Regions from separate parts of the Homo sapiens genome. Here all the other regions are linked to region 3. Evidence: fine-mapped expression QTL. A gene starts in region 3. Each other region holds a variant in brackets. All regions are shown on one strand. Distances are from middle to middle. Region 1 has its middle 93 kb from the start of LINC02421. Region 2 has its middle 28 kb from the start of LINC02442. Region 3 holds the start of LINC01479 (long intergenic non-protein coding RNA 1479). Region 4 has its middle 41 kb from the start of LINC02384.

Region 1 (5,156 bases), 110 kb before region 3:
GGGAGAATCTCTTGAACCCGGGAGGTGAAGATTGCAGTGAGCCGAGATTGCACCGCTGTACTCCAGCCTGGGCCACAGAGCGAGACTCCATCTCAGAAAAAAAAAAAAAAAAAAGAAGTTTAACAAAAATTTTTTGAGTGGTATATATTATACTAAGTCAAATACTATTTCAAATATTTCTTCTTCATATGAACAATATGAAGTAGAATTTATTAATAGATATCATCATCCACATTTTACAGTTGAGGAAACAGACAGAGTAGATAAGTAACTTCCTGAAATCACACAATTAACACATAATGCAGTCAGGACTCACACACACATGGCACTGATTCCAGAGCCTGTACCTGTAATCATTACACCACACTGCTTTCTGATGCCAGGGGTTACTGTGAAAGTCCACAATGAGTGAGAGCAAACGAACATCACTGAAAATGAACTGGGTAACTGCTTAATTAGAAAAGTTGCAGGCATGGCTGGGTGTGCATTCCTTGAAATTAAAATTGACTGGGACGTGTTAATAACTTTTCACCCTTCTCAATTTAAAAGATCATATTTTCTTTCAACAATTTTTGTTTTTATTTTGTTTTGTTTTGCCTTCCTTTTCCATTATTCCTTTTCTTTTTCCACTGTCACTCTCAGCTTCCAGCCTTCTTCTTTTTTGATCTTTTTCTTCCAGCACTCTGAGCTGGAAATATTTTAGGAGCAGCTTGTTACATGATATTTCACTAAAAATAATACAAGTCAAGTTATTGGCAAAAGAGTTAGCCTTGGAGAAACAGTTGTTCAGAACCTGGAAAGCGGTGTGGTAGATCTGTCCCGGCTTTTCAAACAGGATAAATCTCTGAGACTTTGTGTCTGGTTGTGAGGGTGTCCAGACTAATAGAGATGAATGATCATGCGACTCCTCAGTGGGCTCAGCTGCCTTGAAAGGGTGAGGCCTTGCCGGACAAACATTTTGGGACAAATGGGTCTTATGGATTTGTGGAAGTGATATGGCCACTTTACCAATTTACTCTCCTCTGCTGATTTAAAAGTTTGACCTCCTCAAGCCTCTGTTCTCTCCTCCTGTTATTCTACATCTCTCTTACTCGCCCACACCCATTCGATTCCTGCGTACTGTCTAGAAGCCTAGCGGTTCAGCATGTGGACTCTGGAGCCAGACTCTCCGGGTTTGAATCCTGGCTCTGTACTCCTACCCGGGTGATTTTAAGAATTCTGGGCCTCAGCTTTCTTGTAGGTAAGTAAGTCTAACAACTGTACTTGCCTCAGAGGGTTGTTAGGAAGATTAAATGATTTAGTATTGATAAAGTGCTTAGACAGTGACTGGTAAAAGTGAGTGTTTCCAAGTCAGTTTGTTAAATAAACTTGCAAATCTATCTAGTTTAGACTTTTCCTCTGTATTCCAGACCCACATGTCAACTCCTTATCTCTGCTTGGATATGAGACTAACAACATTTCCAGAATTCAGTCTTTAAAAGACATCCTTTGCTTTTGATGTGCCCTATGTTGGGGATCCCCTCCCCTCTATCCATCCTGTCTAGAAACATGGGGGTCACTTTCACCTCACTCTACCTCACTCTATCCATTGTATTCTTGACTCTGCCTCCTAAATATCTTCCAAATCCTTCTATTGCTGTCCATTAACTTTGCCATCCCTAGTGGGCCAAGCCACCACCATCTGGTTTCGGACCATAGCAATGAGCACCCAAATAGTCTCCATGTACCTGTGATTATACCTCTCCAGTTGATTCCTCTAACTGTGGAAAAGGATAACTTTCAAAATGAAATGCAGTGGCATGCATTTTAAAAGCTCTCCCACTAATGTGCGTTGTTCTTGGTTTATAAAGCTTCAGATTATTATGCTTCAAGGAGTAGTGTTCTGCCTCTGCTTCCCTCTCCACTTCCATTCCTCAATCCCACTCCACCTAGGACCTTCAGCAACATAGTTCCCTCTGCTTAGAATATCACTGCTGTCCCTTCCTGCCGTTAGTCCTGCCCCTCACTCGCCCCACCCATCAATTTCACTCTCCCTTCAAGATGCAATCCAGTGTCACTCCTTTCACCCGTTTGGTATCCTAGTTGGACATTTCAATCACACTCTTGCTTATCCTTTGTGTCACTTATTACAATCCTAATTTAATATTTTAAATTTAATTTCTGTCTTCCTACTAGACTCCCCACTTGGCAAAGACTTTATATCACCCAATGCTGTATTTCCAGCACACAGAATGAGCCCAATGAATAGCTGTTTAATGAATGAGCAAGTATGTGTATGGCTTTACTCATGTTGTTATACGTTTGATCACTGTTAATGAGCACAGAAAAAAAAAATCAAGCACCTTCTCCCACACTGACGCCACATCCATTAAGAAAAAGAAGGATCCTGGGTTCATGGATCCCAAATTTCTACAAATGTAATGTCTACATTTTTTAAAAAGGATTTTATTTCAAATTACCTTCCACAGTTTGGAACCACACTTGATATCCCTGAAAACATTTATTTGCCTTAAATGCACATTCTCAATGCATTTTGCGTAACTTAAAAAGTTCTATTTCTATACAATTTTTTTTCCCAAGGTATGCCTCTATTCCTATCTATGACAAGCTTGAAGAACAATTCAATCTCATTATGACCTTTTATTTCAACTTTGTCCCTCAGTGCCTATAATGAGCCACAAATGTTGAAATAGATCAT[T/A]CTTTTCATCATTCCTCAGTGGCCCAATTACCAGGAAAGCACAATACCCCAAGAAAAAATAAAGGAGAATGAAAGCCTGCTCAAAGGACGCATTTACATTCTTAAGGATTTCTAGCTTTTTTGATGAAATAAATTACAATGAATGAATCAGAAACTTTATCAGACCTTCATTTCAGGAGAGCCACATGAAAAGGAAGCTGAAGTTCTTTACTTATCCAATAGTCAGTTATAAGGCTATGAATATTCTATAATATTTTATGTCTTCTAATGTAAATGGTAATATAATTGAAGAACAATTATATTAACTATCAGTTATAAATTGGAAAAATTTTAAAAATAGAAAATAAAAAATCTGAATATAATTGTTTAGCTCTAATACACAATTATTTGATTTGTTTTTGGATCCTTGAATTTTAAAACATGTTTGTGTTACCCTCTTGATTCTCTTATGCAGATTACAGCTGCATTTTCTTCTGTCTGTTGGCTGTAGAAATGATACAATAGAAAGCGCTTTTTCTTTATAGACTGGTTGCATGTCTCTGCTTTGCTTAATCCCTAAAACTCTTTCAGGGATTTAAAACTGCATGTAAAAATGTTTCCATCATGCTTGCTGAGTTGAACTAGGTTAATGAGGTTGGGGGACTATCCAGGAGAGTACATGGATTGCTCAAGAGGGTCATTTAACTTTGTTTTCAGAGGGGGTCATGAGAGTCTTGGATGTTCTGAACTTAAACATGCATTTTAGGTGTTTTATTCCTTTTCTTCATTATTAATTTAGGCTTTATTTCTCCTGAATCTTTTGAATTAATTATATTTTTTAGAGGTATAGCCTCTTGATGGTAGAGAATTCTACAAAAATATTGCTTTTTACATGAAATAGCAATTCTCACTGCTAAAATACCTTTCAGAATTTTAAAGGTGGTATTCTCATTTTAATATCTAAGGATTTGACTTTCATTCATACAAAATTGTGTACAGTTTTAAAGACTTCCATTAGGTGCTCTCTCAGCCTTCATCTTTCCTAACTAAAGATTTCTAGTCTTGTCATCCTGACAACTCAAGGCTCAGTGACCTTCCCTAGAATAGTGGATATTCATTAGTTTTTGGCTTATCAAAATCTAATTCATTCCCAATTCCCAGTTGTTCAATGGGGATCCACCACTTGCCACTCTCACTATATATACACACACTATACACCAGGAAATCTATTTTATATATATATATTAAAAATATATATAGCATATTATATATAATATAGAGTGTATATATAATATATAGTGTATATATAATATATATAATAGTGTATAATAGTATTTGTGTATATATATACATATATGTATACATATATACATATATTTGTATATACATATATACACATATACAAATGTATATACAAATGTATATACAAATATATGTGTGTATATATATATATACACACACAGTGTAGCTGTCATCAACCCTGGCCTAGGGATGGTATCTAAGTCATGTGTGGCCACACAAGGTCTCATATTTCCCTGTCTGTAGTGATTTGTTTAGAGGCAGACTTGTGACCAAATCAGTGCCATTGAGATGCTATGAAATATTTCTTAGAACTCTTGGATAAGAGAATGGCATGCTTTGGGGGGATATATTTAAACACGAGACAATGCGCGTTCTGAGGCTGTTGTAGATATCTATCACAAGGGGACATTTTTTTGAGGATGAAACTCATTGTAATTAAACAGTAGCCTTTTACAACCCTAGGAGAAAGTGAAGCCTGAGACCTTAATATGTTATTAATGTTCTGTAATAATCAATTCTCAGTCTCTGAAGGATGATGTTAATGATTTGAAATATCTGAGGGCCCCAAAAATAAAATAAATACACAATGGGAAAACCCCAAGTTTTGAGGGCTGTGGAGCCAAGTCCCATCATTGGCTATACAAATGAATTATAGTTAGGGGAAGAAAAGCAGATGCATGGGTTAGCTGAGGTTTCATGGGGCCACAGGGCACAATGGTTCATTCAATAATTAAACTAATTTTCCCCACATTCAATTAACAAAACAATACATGGTTATAACATATTACATACCAAAGTTGAACAGTAGTCAAGTAAAACATGATAGGATTTTCATAGATCAAAGGATCCACCAGTGAATTACAGCAAAATATTCTAATTTCCCTAGCTGATACAAACTCTGGCTTGGTCAATGAGTCCATTATCTTTATTTTTTGCAGAGTTGTAACAGAGTAGTGTAGTAAAGAAGGAATTAAGCCCAGCCTGAGTCCCATAGCTACTGAGCTGTATGCCAAGGCAATCTTTATCTCAGTGTCCTCATCTTTAAAATGGAAGGGTAGATAAATAGCCTTCAAAATCCTTTTAATGTTTTGTTTTTGGTCTATTTCTTTTCAAACATTTTATACTTAGCCCAAATCCTTACCAATACATTTTAATTATTAATCTTACAAATAAATGA
Region 2 (5,156 bases), 310 kb before region 3:
TCCTTGTAAGGACACCTGGAGGTATATAAAATTTAGATGCTTACATATACATTTTTTTTCTTGTTGACTTTTACTTGAAATATTTGTCCTGTGAATCTATTCTTTAACAACAGTGCTTTTAAGATCTAGTCCATCTTAAGGGTCACTATAAAGCCAGTCTCATTAATAATTTGGTAAATGTTAAAATATTCTATAGTTAGCAGCAAATAGACTGTTACTAACTTATTTTATGCAGATTAACAGCAAACTGATGGCATTGGTTTGGCATCTAGAAAATTGGTTATTGTCTTTAATTAAGGTATTTGGTCTATAGTGTATCCCTATATTTATTTTATACCATTGGCTAGGTCGAAAGATTTCGCTATTTTTCAACTGCTTAGCTATACTCTGAATATATTTCTTTTTTATTTAAAAATAATGTTGAAAGTTTACATACAGAAAATATTACATAGATTTATATATTAAAATACATAATTTTTATTAAAATAGAAAAACATTAGAAATATTAGACATATTTATTATAAATGCTATGTATAAAAATGTAATAAAAAATAAACCCCTGTAGGACCTCACCATTCAAAGATAATCGCTGTTCCCAATTATATATTTCCACTTAGTTTTCATTTCTATCACATATTATTTGTACATGACCGAGACCATGTGTCTGAACCTTGTTTGCATCAAATGTCTCATTATGTTGTAAGTATTTTCCCCACATCATTAATTTTTTCATAGAATGTTTAATGTTATATAACATTTCTCAATATGGATTTAAAATATTTTGTTTAACCTTCCTTCTTTTGCAAGGTATATACTTTTTCTGTATTTAAAATAATGCTGCAATTCAACTTTTTTTTTCCACTATTTTCTAAAGAAACTTTTCCAGGAGTAAAAAGTACAGGAATATGCGATCCTTTTTTATGTTTATAGTCTGTACTGTCACATTGCTTTTCTGATCCACTGAAAATATCAGCAATGTGAGAATTTCCCTATTCCCACTCCCAAGCAGTTCAAGACCGTGTCTCACTAAATGCCTATATTTTCACCCAAATATTCTAATATTCTTCTATTTTTCCTTTTCCTTGTTTTTTCTCCTCTTTTAAATTCACTTTAAGTATCTCATTACTACTTTAAATTTCTTTGGTTACTAGGGCAGCTAAAACGTTTTTATCAGATTTATTAGCCATTTATGGTCTTCTTATATAAAATGTTTTCTGCAGTTTGCTTTTGAAATAGCCCCTATGTGACTTTCCCTTCTGGCTGGTGTCAAAACATTTCTATGACCAATTCTAATAAATTTACTCATTGCCTTTTGATTCGGTAAAAATTGACAAGAATCCAGAAGTGATGATCTCTTGAATGTTGTTATTATTCCAAAGGTCCACATAGAACATTTGATTCAAAGAGGCAGTAACATTTTGTAGGACCATTATATAGCTATAATTATAAATTCTTATATCACATCCTGAATCTTGTGTCCCTTGTTATAAGAACTCATTTAAAGTAATATTTAAAATCAGAATTTAAGTTACATTTTTTTCTTTATTCCATCTTAGGACAGTATCCTAAATATCAGCTTGGCTGTGAATTTTGAGAAATTCCTAGCCACAGGTCATAATGTTCCTGTGTGCCAAGATAAGTTGGCTGAGAAATCCTAGATAAGATTCAGACATACATACAGGATGAGACTTTTCATTTGGCACAGAATTGGCTGCACGAGAAAGTATTCAGGGGATATGAACAAGGAAACTACCAATTTAAAAAGATCATCTTCTTATTTACTAAAATAGAGCTTGTTCCCCAAATAGGCCTATCTATTCAAAATGTAAGCCAAATCATGCTACTTCTCTGCCCAGGATGCTGTACCGGCTCACTGTTTTACTTGGAATAGAAATTAGGCCCTACACAGCCTTTCCCCAGCGTGCTCATCTCTGCCATTTCCTCCCTGCCTTCACCTTCTCTATCCCCTTCATTCTCTCTGCTCCAGCCACCCTGGCCTCTGTGGCATTCTTGGAATAAGTAAACTATCTGGCCTTTATATTAGCTGTTCTTTCTGCCTGGGTGTTCTTCCCCAAGACACTCGCAGGGCAAACCTGCTTACTCCTTCAAATACTTACTGAAATGTCACCCTCTCAGTGAGGCCTAGCTGACTCTTTTATTTCAAATTGCAACCTATACCCTCTTTTACAAGAACAGTAAGGAAGAAACAAATGACTATTTTCTCCTGCTATCCTCTCAACACAGATCACTTCTGATCACTGAGATGTGTGGGATTTTCCCCCACGCCAAGCGATTCACCAGCAGACACCAACTGGGTGTCCTATAATTTAATTCAATTCTGACACTAACTGGAGTTACTGCAGACCCCACAGGTTAAGAGCTTGTCCCATGAAACTGCCCTCCACTTCAGATACCAATCCCAAGTCTCAGGTTCTGTTCTATACTTCTGACCAACTAGCTACATATCGGAGGTTCCCACAATCCCCTGTGGGGTTCAATAATTTGCTAGAACAGCACATTTTTTTGTGTGTGAGCCCAGAAATGAGGGAAACACTTTGCTT[A/C]TGTTTACCCATTTATTATAAAGGATATTACTAGGGGTACAGACGAATAACCAGAGGAAGAGGCACATGAGGTGAAGTATGTGGGAAGGGGCACGAAACTTTCAGTTCCTCTCCAGTCATGCCATCTTCCTCACACCTCTACACATTCAACAACACAGAAGCTCCCTGAAGCTCAGAGTTCAGGGATTTTTATGAAGGTGTAATTGATTATTACCTGAATCTCCAGGCTCTCTCCCCTTCCCAAAGGATAAAGGAAGTACTGAAAGTTCCAAGTTTCTGATCAAGGCTTGGTCTTTCTGGTGAAGAGTCCCCATCCAAGAGCCCATCAAAAGTTACCTCGTTAGAACAAAAGACACTCCTATCACCCAGGAAATTCCAAGAGATTAAGATTCTGTCAGGAATGTGACCAATGACCAAATATTAGAACAAAAGATTCTTCTAGCATCCCGATTGCTCAGGAAATTATAAAAGTTTTAGAAGCTCTGTGCCAGAAACCAGGGGCAGAGACCAAACATATATTTCTTATTTTATCACAATATCAGACTGTCAATTCTGAGCCCCCTTACCTTGCTTTGCTTTTCTCCCCATAACAATGATCACCAATCATATGGAAAGACTTATTTATTATGTTTATTATCAGTTACCTTTTTAGAATGCAAGTTACAGTAGGGCAGGAATGTTTTGATTGTTGTTTACCAACATGTGTCTCAGCAGCTTAAAACAGTGCCTGGCAAATAGTAGATATTCAAGAAGTATTTGTGAAATTAGTTAAAAATGTCTTTAAGGGGCTGGGCACCTTGGCTCATGCCTGTAATCCCAACACTTTGGGAGGCTGAGGCAGGCAGATCACCTGAGGCCAGGAGTTCGAGACCAGCCTGGCCAACATGGTGAAACCCCGTCTCTGCTGAAAATACAAAAATTAGCCAGGCATGGTGGTGGGCAACTGTAATCCCAGCTACTTGGAAGGCTGAGACAGGAGAGAATTGCTTCAACCCGGGAGGCAGAGGTTGTGGTGAGCCAAGATCGCACCATTGCATTCCAGCCTGGGCAACAAGAACAAAACTCTATCTAAAAAAAAAAAATTCTGAAGAAAAAATACAGATGGCAAGTATGCTGTAGATGGTATTTGAATGGCTATCTAGAAAAAGCATGTAAGCTAATTTAGTCTTATATCACCTTTGTGATAATATAGACAATATTGTTTATTTGTTCATTAAATAGACATTTATTAGTCATGGGCTATGTATCAGCAATGTGTTAGACAGCAGGGATATAAGAGGGAGAAAACATAATCTCTGTCTTCAATGACTATATACTAGCAGCATGTAAGAGAGTGTCTGTAGGCCTGGCATGGTGACTCATGCCTCTAATCCCAGCACTTTGGGAGGCTGAGGCGGGCAGATCACCTGAGGTCAGGAGTTCGAGACTGGCCTGGCCAACATGGTGAAACCCTGTCTCTACTAAAAATACAAAAATTAGCCAGGCATGGTGGTGGGTGCCTGTAGTCCCAGCTACTTGGGAGGCTGAGGCAGGAGAATCGCTTGAACCCAGGAGGTGGAGGTTGCAGTGAGCCGAGATCATGCCATTGCACTCTAGCCTGGGCAACAAGAGTGAGAGTCTGTCTCAAAAAAAAAAAAAAAAAAAAAAAAAAAAAGGAGGGTGTCTGTAATAGTCAATTTGCATCAATTTGACTGGGTTAAGGAATGCCCAGAAAGCTGGTAGAGCTTATTTCTGCTTGTGTCTGTAGGGGAGTTTCTGAAAGAGATTAGCACTTGAATCAATAGAAATAAAGAGGAAAGAAGTAAAGAATATCCATCCTCTGTAATGTGGGTCGGCATCATCAAATCTGTTCAGGGCCCAGATAGAATAAAAAAGGAGGAGGAAGGGCAAATTTGTTCTTTCTGCTTGAGCTAGGGCTTTCATTTTCTCCTACCCCTGGACATCAACAATCCTTGTTCTTGAGCCATCAGACTTCAACGAGAGCTTATATCATTGGCCCCCCTGGGTCTCAGATCTTTGGGTTTGAACTGAAACTACACCACCGGCTTGCCTGTCACATGAACCAATCCGTCATAATACATCTCTCTCTCTCTTTTTCTCTCTCTCTCTCTATATATACACATATATGTGTGTGTGTGTGTTGTGTGTATATGTGTGTGTGTTTTATATATATAATACATCCCTTTATAAATCTCTCCTTCTCTCTCTCTCTCTCTTTATATATACATATATATATATATATATCTCCTATTGGTTCTGTTTCTCTGGAGAATAATACAAACTAATAAACCCTAAAGATGAAAAGTGGCTCTAGAGGAACAGAATTTTAAGGATGAGTTTTCTGATTTGGTTCTGAGGTTTCTGGAATTGGCTTTCTAATACCATTACATTAATGACGTTAATGACTATTTCCAATTCTAAAGAGAGCACTGATACTCCATTGCATAAACTAGTTATAGAGATAGAAAATATCTGCATTGAATACTCCTGATCCACCATTTATAAGAAATAAGAAGATAGATGACTCTGTATATGAGATTTTCAAATATTTTTTTAAAAATTAATGAGTATAATAGCATTGTTTGGTTGCTTCTT
Region 3 (5,156 bases):
TTTTTGTATTTTTGGTTGAGATGGGGTTTTGCCATGTTGGCCAGGCTTGTCTTGAACTCCTGACCTCAGGTGATCCACCCACCTTGGCCTCCCAAAGTGCTGGGATAACAGGCATGAGCCACCGTGCCTGGCTGAAAACCATATTTAAAAATATTTTAAAATGTAATAAACATTTATTAAGTATCAGGCACTATTCTAAGAGCTTTCCAGATATGAACTCACGTAACCCTATGACAGTCTGCGGGGGGTTCTGTAATCAGACCCATTTTACTGACAAGGAAGCTGAGGCATAGCACATTTAAATGATTTGCCCAAGGGCACAGAATTTGGGTTCAAACTCAGGCAAAATGGTTCTAGAATCTCTATTCTTAACTGCTATGCTAAGCTGCCTCTATATTTGCTTTATATATTTTTAAAATATTACTCCTACTTCAGCTTATAACTAAAAGGACATTATAATTGCCTGTCATATTTTCCCACAGGCAGTAAACCAAGATGCCAAGTGAAGACTTCTCTATAGCATAGGGCAAAAATCCATGAGGCTAAATCCTGGTGTTCATAGTCTATGTTAATTTGAAAACCAAAAACCCATAAAACGGCATGTGGGGAGCTTCAAAAGAACTGCTGTCTTGGGAATTCTTACCAGCTTTGAAGACTTCGGGGAGGTGTGGTCTGTTTTTCCTTCTCTGGATTCTCCTCCCGGCCTCTAATCCAGAGCCTGTACATGTGGGTGAATTTGCACATGCACGCCTGCACACACACACCCACCAATGGTAAAAGCCTCTCTGGGATACTTTCAGGATCCTTGGAGTCAGGGCTCTATACAGGGCTATTTTAAAGTGTGATGGTTCACTGAAAAATGTTGTCAAACAGCAAAGTACCAATCTTTTTGAATCACTAGGTCATATTTTAGAGACTGTGAGTTCTACCCTTGCAGGAACGTGACTTTTTCACACTGTATTTTCTCAAATAGGAGAGAAGAGAATTCCAACCAGTGAGATGAGAATTGCACAAATCCTGCAGCCCATCTCTGCCACAGCTCAAAGTAAGCAACTTTTACTGCTGTATTCTTAAATAGTCCCAAGGATCAAATTATATCTCTGCTAAAACATTGTTAGGCCTAACTTCCTCACCAAGAATGTGGACTTTGGTCCGACTGCCAGGTTAAGAGGGCGTTTCTTGAAAACTTTTGTTTCTTTGTAGGCACAGTATGTGCTTATTAGATATAAAAGCTAATGGATTAACTAATTCCTTTAGCCTTTCCAAAATAGAGGTTTCATGGAACTATCTAGGCCCATAACAAATGTTTCTGTGATGAAACAAACTCAGGAAACTGTATATTTTCTTTTTCCCTTAAAGCTTCACAGAATGCATCATCTCATTAAAAGCTCCAGAAACCCTACAAAGAAGAAACCTTACCTGGTATCCCCCAAACTAAGATTGATAGATTTCCACTGGTTTGTAAAAGAGATTCTTATTCTGAGAAGTTCTCATGGCTCTTAAAAAGAAGTCACCTTCTCATTGTATAGACTTAGACACATAATTTGTACTTTTTTTTCAGATTGTTGGGTAAGTAATGACCCAGACCATTGAAGAAAATGAGGAAACTGTGCACACAGACTGATGTCTTATGTGACCAACATGCATATAAGAAATGGAAGCTTCCCCCTATCTTTCCAGAGTTCAAAAATCCTATTGCTGAATTCACCTCCAATTCCATGAAACAATATAAAAGATCCTCCATAAAGACCCCAGGTTATAATGTTTACAATTTATTTTGTACTCCTTTTCTCTGGTAATTGATGACTGCTATTATTAATGAAGACATTACAAGGAATAAAAGGGCTTGCCTGCCACTTCTCACCACAAAACCGTGTGGCATCAAACAGAATGAAATCCTTCTGACACTGACAGCTGGAGAAAACCTTGTCACCACAGTGACAGTGTCAAGTGTGGTGTGACATCTCTGTGTGTGTTTCTTTTGCACCTAATAACTTCGTTGCCAATACAGACCAAAATAATGAAAGAAAACCTGCTTTTGCCAGCCCAAAGGATTAACTGTACTGTTGAGAAAACTGCAGGAATATTTGACATGAGATCACAATTTTTAATTCTTTTCCCCCCAGGATTCTGCATGAAGTATTTTTCTATGAAGGATTTAAATAGAATTACTTTTCCTCACATTGGTCATGGAGAGAATTAAGACATTAACTGTTGATCCAATTTATACTGCCATTTGATCCCATAAGTGCTATACAGGACTCGGTTACTCATGGAAAATAGTTCCTGCCAGATCAAACACTCTCAGGGCCAAAGTCACAAGATTCTGACTTTACATGCTCTGTTCTGCCTCCTTTCATTTTGCCTCTTGGATTGTCATGAACTTCCTGAGCAAGAAGGCCATCCACCATGCAGTGTAATGTCTTGCTAAGAGAAATTAGTATTCAGTCTGCTCAGGTTCCAGCAAGGACTTTCTTCATGAAGATCTTCAAGTGGAATCAAGGTAGGAACTGTTATCCTTTTCAGTCCTTGTGCTATTCATTCACACCTTGGAACAAAAACAAAGCTGAACTCTTTAGAGGGGAAAATTGATACCGCATGGTTTCTGGTGTATCTGCAACTTTTGGCTCTGGTTTGGAAAAGGGTGTGTATGTGTCATGCACACATGTCTATTTCATCCTATCTGACAAATACCTTTGTGAATTGCTTTGTTGACTATTTGGGTGTTACTGCAGGTTACAAATTTCTAAGAGGGCTGGGAGACGTCTTTAAATCCCATAGGCATTGGATCATGTGTCCTCTAGTGGCCATGAACACTAGTTTTAGATGAAAGGTCTCATTTTCAGATAAGTATGAGGAATACTTTATTTTCAGCCCTCTCTTTTAAGAGGCATAAAATCTTTTAGTGCTGAAAACACTTGTACTACCTATAATAAAGAATTATGTTTAAGTCAGTGTGTTCCTAATTTGACTATGGAATTCAAACTTCTTGTAAGAGTCCACAGACCAGGTAAGACTTAAAGATTTGCCAACATTCAAAACCTCTGAAAAATAACCCATTACTTGGCAGCTAGGTGATCTCCCTCCTAATTTATCTGGCTCTATTTTCTTTTCTCTACCATCACCAATAGCATCTTTCTAATCCCTCACTCGGATCTTCTCATTCCTCCATTCATTAGAATACCAGTTCATTTCTTCAATAAACATGCCAAATAGGAGTGGCTCTAACAAGACGGGAAGTTTTTTCTGATGTGACAGTCTGTATATTTGCAGTCCAGGACTTGAATGGTGACAGCAAGAGGACAGAGGCTCCAGGTTCCTTTTGTTTTAGTGCTCTGCCATGTGTAGGGTGTTTCCCATCCAAATGTTCCAAGATGTCTTACCACTGTGTCTGTATTCCAGGCAATGGGAAGGAGGGAAGGTGAAGGGGAGAGAATTTTCCTTCCTTGCAAGAGCATCATCTGCAAGTTGTGTTTCTGCTCACACCCCATTGACAGAGCTTTATTGCTTGATCACAGCTAGCTGCAAACGAGGCTAGGAGATGTTTTAGTCAGTCTGGTAGCCTTTGTCACACTACAATTTCTATGTTAGAGGAGAGAGAGAGAGAACATATATTAGGGAATAGCTAACCATCTCTGCTACACCTATGACCTTCCATTTGTCTCTTACAATGAGTTTGTGAAGTTAGAATTTTTATCCCAAGTTTTCCACTGAGAAAAATAAAGCTCATAAACCTGAAATAATTTTAATATTGTCACCATGTTAAGAATGATTAAGGGTGTGAAGTTTTGTCTGCTTCCAAGCTAACAAGGGAGCCGCCACAATTGCATGGATTCTTGCAGAAGACACAGATTCCTGAGTCAGACACAGAGGACTTTATCACTCATGGCACAGCAAGCAGCATCAGCTCCAATATTCATGTAGGTTCTTCTTGTCCTCCAAATCCTATGGGGCATTAGGGGGTGGCCAAGGTAGATGCTGCAAACGCAGTCGGTTTGCACCAAAGGTGAAAAACCCCGAGCTTAGGAAACTACAAGCTTTTAAAGAGGCTATAAGGAAACCTGCCCAACTTTTTCCTTAGAAGGAAACCTTTTTTTTAGTATCCTAGTTAAGAAACAAATCTCTCTGCTTGAGAGAGGCACGCTACCTCTAACCTCCAAGAAGTTCACCATACAAATATTCTTGGAAGGCAGTCCCAAATAAAAGTCTCTTTGTTGACAAGGCTTGCAGAAACATGAGACACCCCTGGACATTTTTTTTCCCAACACACAGATAGTCTTGCTATCTTCATTACAATAAAGGTACTTCTTCAAGAAATCTCCCACTGACCATGCCTCCATCATCAGGGCAGTTCTCACTTTTTATTGTAATTGTTCACACCTCTGGATCTCCATATTGGAATATCAGTTCCTTGAAGGCAGGGGCTATGGCTTTGCTTTTATATCCCTAGCACCTAACACATTACTTGGAATATGGAACATGTTCAACAACTATTTTGAATGAAGTATATTAGAATAAGATTTACTTAAGGGATAGAACAAATCAGCAAGCATTACATGTTATTGAATCCACTTGAGGTTCTCTTTGTATGGATCCTAGGGTAGGTGGCTAATTTTTATGATTCAGGCCTCAAATACCACTCCCCTGACCACTGTATTTAAAACATCATTCTAGATAAGTCTAATGATAAGCACTTGTCACTACCTAATATTATTCTGCTTGTTTATTTAGGTATCTGACTCCCCTTCTAGAATAGAAACCCATGACTTCAAGGACTTGCCTATCTAGTTCATGACTATATTTCTATACTCTAAAATAGTGTCGGGCCTAAAATAGAAGTTTCATAGGTATTTTTGAATGAATAAGTGAATGAGTAAATTCAGCAAACATTCACTAAGTTTATACCATCTGCTAGGAACAAAATGTTTTACCATGTCACAGTGGCCCACAAAGAATACTGTTACTTTGGACAACTGAAACAATTCAATATCTGGGTTGAGTTGAGTGGCAGCATCACTTTTGTTGGGGCAGTGAGCTTCCATTCCTCACTACAGATATTCCACTGCTGGCTTGAGCTGGGTCCTGAACACTGTCCTTTCCTGGTCTTGCTGGCGAAGGCATCCTGTGCCAGCAGGCAGCTTCATTGCCTTCCTCTC
Region 4 (5,156 bases), 560 kb after region 3:
CATTTTATGGCATGGGGGAAAGATTCATAATGTACTGTGGGTGAGGAGGGACCTTTAATACATTCCAGGCAGAGGGAACTCTATGTTTGAGCATGAGGTTATGAAGCAGCTTGACAGATTCAAGAAACTGGGAGTAGTTTGACAGGACTGTAAAGTAGGGCACAAATGAGGGAAGCAAAAGATGGTAACTTGAAAGAGAAAACAGTGGATCTTGAAGGATGACAAGTCATTAAGAGACTTCAAGCAGAGATGTAGCATGATAAGATTTATGTTTAAGAAAGAATGCCAATGTCAGCAGTGCAGAGGACTGACTGAAGAAGGTGGTACTGAAGAAAGGGAGAAAGGTTAGGAGGCTGCAGTAATGAGACAAACAAGTGGCGAGCCATCCATGGAGCAACAGAGAAAGGGCATGGATCTGGGAGAAAGGAATTCTACTCATTCAACCTCCATCTTGTTGTGATTTTTTTTTTTTTTTTTTTTTTGAGACAGAGTCTTGCTCTGTCCCCCAGGCTGGAGTGCAGTGGTCTGATCTCAGCTCACTGCAACCTCCACCTCCCGGGTTCAAGTGATTCTCCTGCCTCAGCCTCCCGAGTAGCTGGGACTACAGGCATGCACAACCACGCCCAGCTAATTTTTTGTATTTTAGTAGAGACGGGGTTTCACCAAGTTGGCCAGGCTGGTCTTGAACTTCTGACCTCAAGTGATCTGCCAGCCTCAACCTCCCAAAGTGCTAGGATTACAGACATGAGCCACCGCACCCTGCCCTAGTTGTGATTTTGGACCAGTTACATAATCTCCCCAAGCTTCAATTTTTGTAATCTGCAAAATTAAAATAATAGCACCAACCAGCATGACTATGAAGCTTAAGTAGGATAATTTGTGTGCAGTGCACTCAAAAATGGTAGATCTTTACTACTAAGCCAGACATTGACGGTGAGAATGAAGTTGAGATCACAGATTCTAGGAAGGCAAATCCATCAAAGTGCCATGCCAGAGTTAGCACTTCCTCTTCTGAGTTATGAGGGAAGGTGAATCTTGACGTTACCCCCTTTCACCCACACACGAAATTCCACCTCTCCTATGTTCCTTCTCCCTGCCCACACCTCCCAACAAGCCCATCGCTAAGACAGCTCTGGGTGTTGGATTTGAACATAACATAGTTAAACTACATGGCTCACAAATTATTATGACAACTCAGCAACAAAAAAAACCACAAACAACATGATTTTTTAAATGGCCCAAGGACTTGAATAGATATGTTTCCAAAGAAGATGCACAAATGGCCAACAAGCATGGGAAGATGCTCACCATTAGTCACTTGGGAAATGTAAATCGAAACCACAATGAAGTGCCACTTCGCACCCACGAGGATGGCTATCAAAAAATGCAAAAAACAAGTGTTGGGGAGGATATGGAGAAATTGAAACTCTAATATACTGTTGGAAGGTAAAGTCATTTGGCCACTGGAGAAAGTAGTTTGGTGTTCCTCAAAACATTAAACGTAGAATTACCATATGACTTAGCAATTTCCCTCCTAGGTATAGTGCCAAAAGAATTAAAAAACAGGTGTTCAAACAAGTACATGTATTGTATACCCATGTACACAGCAGCACTGTTCACAATAACTAAAAGGGAGATACAGTTCAAATGTCTGCCAGTGGATGAATAAACAAGAGGTGGTGTATACATATAATGGAATATTATTCATCCATAAAAGGGAATGAAGTACTGATACATGCTACAACATGGACGAACCTCAGAAGCATTATGCTAAGTGAAAAAAGTGAGACACAAAAGGTTACCTATTGTATGATGCCATTTATATTAAGTATGCAGCAAAAGTAAATCCACAGAGGCAGAACACAGATTTGTAGATATGAGGCACAGGCGGAAAGGGGGATGGGAAACAACTACTTAACACCTATAGGGTTCCCTTCTGGAGTGATGAATATGTCATGGAACTGGAGGTGACGGTTGCACAGCATTGTGAATGCACTCAATGCCACCAAAATATTCACTTTAAAATGATTAATTTTATGTGCTGTTACTGGTACCTAAATAAATAAATAATTTTTTAAAAAGTATTATGAAAGCCTTTTCACAGAAAGTGGATGTGATCAGCTGCTAGAGTTCAGATATACCTACCTCAAGTTACCAATGAAGGTAGTTTGCATTAAACCACTATGGTACCCACTCCAGTCAGTTTTTAATGCCCAGGCAGTCTGTATTGCTTAATAACACCAGTAACCCCAGTTAGGTGCGGTGCAATCTCCTGCTGATGTCAATACCTTAAACTAGTTGGAGCCCTTATTTTTCCTTCAATTATCTTGTCTTCCCACAGTCCCTCTGAACACTTCCAGCCGTAGCCTGGCTCCAGGAGCCTTTTGGAGGCAAGTTTTCACCCTTGGAGTTGAATCTTTTTTGACTGCAATGTCTCTTTGAAAGTTCTTACATACTATTATATGAAAATATTGCCTTTCCATGC[C/T]TTGACTATATAAGCTCCATGAGGTTTGGAACTGTGCTTCTTTTGTTTACCACCTTACCTGGTACATAGTACAACAAAGAAACAGGTTGTTTAGATCTCAACAGACCCAGGGGTTTCCTTATCTGCTATTTTAACTGCTTCTGAGTGTGACATCACTGAAACAAAAAAGTCAGATAGGTAAATTGTCTTTTAATTTTAACTTTGTAATTATCCTGTGTGCATAGGAAAGAAGATTGACTAGAAACTAGCTCATGCTTCTCTTATATCGCCATTCTCCTCCCCAGACAAAATACTACCTTGACCCCTATATCAACTCATGAAACACAGAATCCTTCTCAACCTCTTCCACCTGCAGCTCTTCCATAGGGTGTCTTTATTACTGCCTGAAAGTAAAAACTCTAGGATACTAATTCAATAGTTTAAAAAGTGAGGCCAGGTGCGGTGGCTCACACCTGTGATCCCAGCACTTTGGGAGGCCAAAGAGGGCGGATCACTTGAGGTCAGGAATTTGAGGCCAGCCTGGGCAACATAGCAAAACCCCATCTCTACTAAAAATACAAAAATTCGCCAGACATGGGCATGGTGGTGCACACTTGCAGTCCCAGTTGTCAGAAGGCTGAGGTGGGAGGATGGCTTGACCTGGGAGACAGAGGTTGCAGTGAGCTGTGATTGCACCACTGCACTCCAGCCTGAGCGACACAGCCAGACTTTGTCTCAAAAACTATATGAGGGTGTTTAATCCTTTGTCTTTTCCTAATGCAACGAATTGAGCAATTTGAATTCTGAGTAGAAGCAAACACATGAAAATGTTATTTCACTTTTTATTATTTATTTATTTAAACACCCTATTTCACTTTTTTTCTTTTATTCAAAGTGACTCACTTTTGTCCAGTTACCGACTTTCCAGAAAATATCGCCAGTACTGGAAGCTAAGATTGGACTATTTTACTGCTGTACATAAGCAAAGCCTTAATCTGGCTTTAAGGCTCAAAGAAAGATTCTACAGGTAATAATTACAGACAAATGGTGCCCCCAAAAAAAAGATGTTTTGACACTGCTAAGAATAAGCGTGCGTGGGTGCCTCCTCTGTGTCAAGCACAATACAGGGGAAGAAAACTGATTCACTAGTCAAAGAGTTTTGGGTGTGAATCCCAGCTCAGCCACTAACTATGTGAGCTTGAGAAAATTATTAAACATCTCTGAACATCAGCTTATAAACTTTAAAAATGGAAATAACAGGTACCTCATAGGGTTGTTGTATGCATTAACTATGTTAATGTATTTAAAGACTGCCTGGTACATATTAGTCTCTCAATTAATGGTCATTATCCTCCTAAGCAGGGCTCATCTTATTGAGATGAAATTGTATTGGCTTCTTGTTTACACACACACACACACACACACACACACACACACACACACACACAGAGAGAGAGAGAGAGAGAGAGAGATAAGCATCTCCTCATCTCATTTTCTGGCTTACTTAATAATAAAACTGTCAAAAGAGAAAAGTAAGACAAACTGTATAATGTACAAGAACCGTGGAAACAGTTTCCAAAAACTCTAAATCTGTAAGAATTCTGTTAGGTCAGCAGGTCTGCATCGATTTTACTCATATTTACCAAAGGTTGCTGCCCAATTTTTGCTGCTACTTTTCTTGTCACATCCATATTTTCCTATTACAGATATATTTTATGTTTCAATAACATATATGGGTCCCCACGAGAAACTAAACCAAATGTAATAATGAGCATTGAGGGATATATTTTTCAAACACTGTCTGATTCCTAGGAGGCCCAGAAATTATTTTCGTAACAAAATGAATTTCAATCAACTTGATAACTATTTAGAGAATGCCTACTACATTCAAGACACCAGAGGGATTCAAAGATAAATAAGATACAGTTTGTGTCCTCAAGCAGTTATAATCCAGCAAAAACCTGACATGACCAGCCATGTGCCAGATCTTACTATTCTAACAAACACACTTCATCCCAATGTGGCCTGTTCAATGCATCTCCCAGAAATACTTCAGACAAAATACATTGAAATAAGTATAGGTAATTTTTTAATTCTTTAGACAGATAATCTTGCTCTAAAAAGGTAACAAAACAGGCCAAGCACAGTGGCTCACTGTAATTCCAACACTTTGGGAGGCCAAGGCAGAAGGATCACTTGAGGGCAGCAGTTTTCCACCAGCCTAGGCAACACAGCCAGAACTCAACTCTACAAAAAAAATTTTTTTAATTAACAAGGGGGAAAAAAAAAAAAAGAAAGAAAAAGAAAATTAACCAGGCATAGTGGCACATGCCTGTAGTCCCAGCTACCCAGGAGGCTAAGGTAGGAGTATCATTTGAGTCCAGGAATTCGAGGCTGCAAGTGACCTATGATTAGGCCACTGCATTCCAGCCTGGGCGACAGAGTAAGACTCTGTTTCTTAAAAAATAATAACAATAAAAAAATTTAACAATAAAAGATAACAAAACAAAATACTATCTGAATTATCACTTGTGACTGACGCTGTTGTTTGAATTCACCAGGTAATTCCTCAATTATCCTTTTCTATATAGATATCACTGTTATGTATGAGATCATAGCAGAGAAGCTCTGGCAAGGTAATTTGCAGAATGAAGTATTTCCTATTTTGTACCAAACATGATGACATTTAAGC

What was found. PIP is the estimated chance that this variant, and not a neighbour inherited with it, causes the effect. A credible set is the group of variants that fine-mapping cannot tell apart.
Region 1: its variant is the best candidate, but not a certain one, in a credible set for the expression of LINC01479 in skeletal muscle (FUSION, PIP 0.62).
Region 2: its variant is the best candidate, but not a certain one, in a credible set for the expression of LINC01479 in blood mononuclear cells (TOPMed, PIP 0.78).
Region 4: its variant is the best candidate, but not a certain one, in a credible set for the expression of LINC01479 in prefrontal cortex (CommonMind, PIP 0.60).

Annotation. Positions count from the first base shown.
Region 1 is chr12:67,819,761-67,824,916 of GRCh38, forward strand. No RefSeq gene overlaps it. Among named protein-coding and RNA genes, the nearest start is that of LINC02421, 93 kb to the left of the region's middle. The variant T/A (reference allele first, on the strand shown) is at 2,699.
Region 2 is chr12:67,615,844-67,620,999 of GRCh38, forward strand. No RefSeq gene overlaps it. Among named protein-coding and RNA genes, the nearest start is that of LINC02442, 28 kb to the left of the region's middle. The variant A/C (reference allele first, on the strand shown) is at 2,562.
Region 3 is chr12:67,926,885-67,932,040 of GRCh38, forward strand. It overlaps LINC01479 (long intergenic non-protein coding RNA 1479), which reads left to right and starts at 2,351. Exons shown (of 3, transcript NR_120456.1): 1 at 2,351-2,503.
Region 4 is chr12:68,490,398-68,495,553 of GRCh38, forward strand. No RefSeq gene overlaps it. Among named protein-coding and RNA genes, the nearest start is that of LINC02384, 41 kb to the left of the region's middle. The variant C/T (reference allele first, on the strand shown) is at 2,486.